Linked DNA regions of Homo sapiens: region 2 is reported to be linked to region 1. Evidence: microRNA targets listed by miRTarBase, many of them from high-throughput screens and not tested one by one. Region 1 holds a microRNA gene; the other region holds the end of a gene's coding sequence.

What was found. The annotated mature microRNA hsa-miR-6819-3p reads AAGCCUCUGUCCCCACCCCAG and lies in region 1 at 2,102-2,122, opposite strand. An mRNA with a match to its seed (bases 2 to 7 or 8) in the 3' UTR can be bound and repressed. Matches are read on the target gene's strand: a 7mer-m8 pairs with bases 2 to 8, a 7mer-A1 pairs with bases 2 to 7 and ends in A, and an 8mer does both.
Region 2: the mRNA of MGST3 is a reported target of hsa-miR-6819-3p. Seed matches in the 3' UTR shown: 7mer-A1 at 1,082-1,088.

What each region holds. Positions count from the first base shown.
Region 1 is chr22:36,284,746-36,287,891 of GRCh38, forward strand. It overlaps MIR6819 (microRNA 6819), which reads right to left and starts at 2,162; the gene lies at 2,102-2,162. MYH9 (myosin heavy chain 9) reads right to left here. Exons shown (of 41, transcript NM_002473.6): 35 at 1,973-2,101; 36 at 1,120-1,208; 37 at 913-1,036; 38 at 376-584. RefSeq lists an enhancer at 1,651-2,163.
Region 2 is chr1:165,654,922-165,657,921 of GRCh38, forward strand. MGST3 (microsomal glutathione S-transferase 3) reads left to right here. Exons shown (of 6, transcript NM_004528.4): 6 at 447-1,215. The coding sequence ends at 583. Among named protein-coding and RNA genes, the nearest start is that of MGST3, 25 kb to the left of the region's middle. RefSeq lists a silencer at 2,145-2,311.

The DNA of each region.
Region 1 (3,146 bases):
TCTATGTAACTGGAAAAGAGGTCTGGGGGCCTACTGTAAACCCCATTCCCTCCAAGGAAGTCTCAGTCCTGCTGAGCCCATAGGACAACTGTCCTAGTGGGCAGGACCCCCCTGTACCTCCTGCTCTGATTCACTCTCAGACACAGCCACCAAAACTCCTGGCTTTAGAGGTGGAACAGAGAATCCTGTTCAAACCCCACAAGCTCCCCCAACCACCCAACCTGTGGAAGGGATGAGGGCCCCATCAGGAGGGAGGGAAACAGCCCCAGGCTCAGGAGACAGAGAGCTGGTTGTGGCCCAGATTTGGGCAGGACTGCAGGGGGGCCAGAGTTTTTTCCAGGACAGCTGGGGTTGGGCGGGGCCAGGGGCACGTACTTGGTCTCGTTGTCCAGCTGCTCCTCCAGCTGTGCAATCTTGGCCTCGAGGGCGGTGATGGAGGCCTTGTACTTGGACTTGACAGTGCCCTCCATCTCCTGCAGCTTGACCTTAAGCTCCTTGTTCTGGCGTTCCAGCTGCTGCCGAGCATTCTCGTTCTTCTGGGCGTGGCTGCGCTCCAGGTTCAGGTCGGTGTTGATCTGGTCGATCTGCAGAAGAAGGGCCAGTGACCTTGGGGAGGGCTGGGGCCCTGGCTGGAGGGCATGAGCAGGGCCAGAGGAAGGTGGCAGCAGGATCCCACCAAACCCTTGGGGTCCAGAGTCTTGGGTCTCCCAGAAAAGGGAAGATTAGAAACTTCTGAACACCCAACACAGAAGCCAGAGGGGGACCTTTCAGGTCCAGGTGCCTGGACATTTTCCCCTAAGCGCCTGGGGAGCAGCTGGCACTTGGCCTGTGCTTCTGCCGGCTGGGTCCAAGGCCAGCTCTGCCGTGGTGGCTCCAGCCAGAGCCCAGAGTGGGAGAAGTCCTGGCACCCACCTGCAGGTTGGCCTTCTTCAGCCGGTCGTTGATCAGCTCCGTGTTGCCCTGCTCCTCCTCCAGCTCCTCCTCCAGCTGGGCGATGCGGGCCTCCAGACGCCGCTTCTCCTCTAACGCCAGGGCTCTGCGGGGTGGGCGGGAGAAGTGAGGGGCCTACCCTGGGGACACACCTGGTCCCCCCCAACTCTGCCCCCTCACTCAGCTCACCCTTTGCCGCTGCTGTTGGCGATCTCGTCAGCCAGCTCATCCCGCTCCTGCTGGGCCTGGCGCTTGGCACGCTCCGCGGCTGCCAGTTCCTGCCACAAAGACCCAGAGTGTGACCTAAAGGCAGCCACAGCCCCACAAGACCATCCTTCCCAGCCCCAGGCACCCTCCCCTCAAGCCCTTCCCCAGGCCCACCTCCCCACGAAGCCCTTCCTCCAGAAACCCTCTAGCTCACAGGGCTGGTGCCCCCCTGAAGATATAGCTTAAACACCATATGTTTATAAAACTCTTACATTTAAGTGCTAGGAATCAAGCCAGGTGCCAGGGTATGGCGATAAGTAAGAAGTGTCCTGGCCTAACCAGGGAGACCACGTGGACAGAGTCACTCAGGGCGGCCCCTCCCTGTTCTGGGTAAGCCAGAGCTTGGAGTCAGCTCTGGAGGCCACAGGCAGATGGCTACACCCTGGACGCACTCGCAGCCGGCACATCACGCTGCAGGGCACCCTCCAGACCTGGGAAACACTTCAGGACGGGCTCAGGTGCGACGGGCAGGGCGGCCGAGGGGACGCTCAGACCCCTTCTCACCAGGCAGCATTCACAGCAGGAGGTGGTGGTGGCCACAAAGCCTCATCTCATGTGAGGGATGCCAGTTTCACACACACACACACTCTGATCATACGAGGGAGCCCCGCTATGAAACGGAACCCTGGAGGGAATCCTTATGTAACCTGAGAGCCATCCCCAGCCAATTCCTGGAGCCCAGTAGGACTCCAGCCCTGTCCTCAGCTGAAAGCCCCACGCTGCCACCTGCTGGCCGCAGGGCAGCGGTGCCGCTCTCCATTGCAGCCCCACCCACCTCCTGCAACTGGATCATCTCGGCCTCCATGCTCTTCAGCTTCTTCTCGTTCTCTTTGGCCTGGGCCAGGATCTCCTCACGAGAGGCGCGGGTGTCATCCAGCTCGCGCATGCAGTCCTTCATCTGGGCCTGGGGTGGGGACAGAGGCTTGGCACCCCACCCAGCTCCTTGGCCCTCCACCCCAACCCTCATGGGTCACCTCGCCAACAGGGCTCATGGCTGGTGCTCCACTCAATGCTGTATTTAACCAACTAACCGTGGTGACAGGGCAAAAAGGCAACTAAAGACAATCATCTGTGTATCCCACCCCGTAATGCACACTTTGACAGTGTTCGTCACCGTGGACGTGAGCCCAAGCTGAGCTTCATTTTCTACTTTCTGTCCCCTCCTGTGGGCCGGAAGCCAGTGCCCATGGTGCCACCCCTAATGCGCACCTGCCACTCAAAACCAGTGCCCAGCCTGCCGGTCCATCCCCACCACAGGCAGGAAACACCTTTCCTTTTGTTATTCTCCTGTTACTTCTTTTAACACTAAAGACCTTTGTCAAATAGCCTTTTTTTCCTTTTGCAGATAAATCCGAAATTGAGATTCCCCAAATCAAAGAGAGTGACTGGCTGTGTGCAGCCCGACCACACCAGTAAAAAAATGCCACCAGCAATCAGAGCATCTATGCCCACAACCTTGACCACAATGAAGTTTTAAAGTTTTTGTGGGTTTTTTTTTTACACTTAACATTTTTTTTTTGGCCGGGCGCAGTGGCTCATGCTTGTAATCCCAGCACTTTGGGAGGCCGAGGCGGGTGGATCACAAGGTCAGGAGATTGAGACCATCCTGGCTAACATGGTGAAACCCCGTCTCTACTAAAAATACAAAAATTAGCCGGGCGTGGCGGCGTGCGCCTGTAGTCCCAGCTGCTGGGGAGGCTGAGGCAGGAGAATGGCGTGAACCCGGGAGGCGGAGCTTGCAGCAAGCCGAGATCATGCCACTGCACTCCAGCCTGAGCGACAGAGCGAGACTCCGTCTCAAACAAACAAACAAAAAAAAATTTGTTAAACTAAGGTTATTCTTGTTACATGATATGGCGTATCAGAGCTGTTTTTACGTGTTAATTATTCTTTAATTATTAGTGAGGTGAAGATTTCCAAGTATGTGTCCCACACTCCGGGCTGCTTCT
Region 2 (3,000 bases), not on the chromosome of region 1:
AATTAGGAAACTGGGACTCAGCATGATTAAAGCTGTAGGTCACAGAGCTACTAAGCGTAAACTAGTAAACTAGGAATCAAACCCATGCAGTCCGACTCCAGAGCCTCACCATTACTATACCTCCTATATCTGAGTAAGGAGGAGGAAAAGCCATTTTTAGCTGTACTTCTTTGAAACAGAGGGAACTCCTTCCAAAGGTCCTAGAGCAAAGTTGCTGTAATTATTATCCCATAATTTTCTAAGATCCAAGCAATACTACTGTGGCACGTTACTTGGCATGTGGTATCTGACTTGCCAACAGCTTCAGGCTAAAGAGTTAGTTAACCTCCTAAGGCCAGTTTGTCTAATGTACAACCTCAGATGCGATGATAGAATGGCTTGCGAATGTTGAAAGCATCATAATTCTGGAGCACTCCTGGTAACTTCTGTTCTTTCTTCTTTTTCAGAACCCAGCAAGCGTAGTCGAGGAGCCCTGGGGTCCATCGCCCTCCTGGGCTTGGTGGGCACAACTGTGTGCTCTGCTTTCCAGCATCTTGGTTGGGTTAAAAGTGGCTTGGGCAGTGGACCCAAATGCTGCCATTAAAGAATTATAGGGGTTTAAAAACTCTCATTCATTTTAAATGACTTACCTTTATTTCCAGTTACATTTTTTTTCTAAATATAATAAAAACTTACCTGGCATCAGCCTCATACCTAAAACTCCTGACTCTTACCACTCATTTCCGTTTGAGTCTGTATCTGAAATCAGTAGCCTAGTCCTACTAGATGAGAAAGGAGCCACAAGTATTGTGCCCTCTCCTCACCCTTCCAGCAGATGCTTCTGTAGTATGTGAGGTTGAGAAAAAGTCTGATTGTGGTGATGTAGGTATAGTCATGCCACAGTGATGAAAAATTAAAGAAAAATCTTCTAGCTCTCAGGATATGCATTATCACTTGCTACAGATACTCCAAGGCCAAAGGAATGCTTGAGCCTAAAAGTTCAAGACCAGCCTGGGCAACATAGCAAAACCCCATCTCTACAAAAAAATATACAACAGTTAGCCAGGCATGATGGCACATGTCTGCAGTCCCAGCTACTTGGGAGGCTAAGGTGGGAGGATCACTTGAGCCCAGGGTGTCAAGGCTGCAGTGAGTTATGATCACACTGCTGCACTCCAGCGTGGGTGACAGAGCAAGACCCTGTCTCAAATAAATAAAAATTAAGTTTCTATTAAAGATTGTTTCTGTTGCTTAAAAACTGAAGCAATAGACTAAATGTAAGATGAAGGTTAACAGAGATGAATGTAACTTGCTACATTTAGAAACAAAGATCTGATTGCCTACGTACAAATGAGGAAGACTTAGAAGATTTCAGTTGGTTTAGAGAACACTGCCAAGTTGGCAGAATGAGATAGTTACTCCAAAACACTGATGTGGCCATAAACTACCTTAATAGGAAATATAGTGTCTAGACCTGCGCTGCCCAATTGGCCACATGTGGCCATCTAAATTTAAATTAATTTAAATAAAAAAGCAGTTCTTCAGTTGCACTACCCATTTTTCAAATGCTCAATAGCCTGTGAGGATGAGAGACAGTATTTGAACCCAGTCCTGACTCTAAAATCCATGCATTTTCCATTGTACCAGTTTATTGCTTAAGCTCCGAAGATGAAGCATTTAAGGATAGAATGCCATGGCCAGCCATTGAAGATGGTCAGCCTTGGCCAAATGGCCACCTGGAGCCCTTGGGGCATTTGATGAGGAGGCTGGACCAGTTTAGCACACACTCCAGTGTTAGTTCATGAGAAAGTTTCACCAGTGGAGAGCAAAATAAGGAAAATGAGGGACTGTTTTTCATAAAGCTTTGACTTGTACTTTTTACATTAAAATGTTCTTTATGAAATGATGGTGACGATGAATGGTAGGGATTTTTGGTCCTGGCTTGAAAAAATGATATAATTGAGAATTTACAATAAGACAGGGTTTTGGTTTTTGCTTCATAAGAAACACATCTAGAGAGGCCAGAGAACTTGCCGAGGTTTCCTTTCTCACTGCAGAGAACAGCAGGCATCAGTGAAGCAGGGCAGGGAAGACCTGGAGATGAAGCTGGCTTTTCACCTTTAAAAGTCTTAACAGGGTGTACTTTTCAAACTACAGATGGTCCCCAACTTATGACAGTTCAACTTAACAATTTTTCAACATTACGATGGTGCAAAAGCAAGACTCAGGCTGAGCATGGTGGCTCATGGCTGTAATCCCAGCTCTTTGGGAGGCTGAGGCGGGCAGATCACCTGAGGTCAGGAGTTCGAGACTAACCTGGCCAAAATGATGAAACCCCATCTCTACTAAAGATACAAAAATTAGCTGGGTATGGTGGTGCATGCCTGTAATCCCAGCTACTTGGGAGGCTGAGTCAGGGGAATCGCTTGAACCCAGGAGGCGGAACATGTAGTGAGCCGAGATCACACCACTGCACTCCAGTGTGAGTGACAGAGCAAGACTGTCTCAAAAAAAAAAAAAAAAAAAAGCAATATTCATTCAGTAGAAATCGTACTTTGAGTACCAATACAATCATTCTGTTTTTGACTTTCAGTATTCAATAAGTCATATGAGATATTCAACACTTCATTATAAAAGAGGCTTTGTGTCAGATGGTTTTGCTCAACTGTCGGCTAATGTAAGTGTTCGGAGCATGTTTAAGGTCACTAGGCTAAGCTATGATGTTCAGTAGGTTAGGTGTATGAAATGCAATTTCAACTTACAATATTTTCAACGTGTGCTGGGTTTCTCAGGATGTAGCCCCATCATAAGTTGAGCATCCGTAATGTGATCCCAGTTTGTCATTTTGCTATTGCGCACTGGGTTCAGATGGAGTTTTGTAAGGAAGCTCGGTACATAAAGGGCGCTGTGGTTGAAGTGCAGAACCGAGAGCTCTGCCTTTCAGTGCCCTACTTCCCCACTCACTGCACTTCCAGGGAACCCTAGGGCTTGGCAGAATCCAGTTGGTAAAGACTGCTTAGA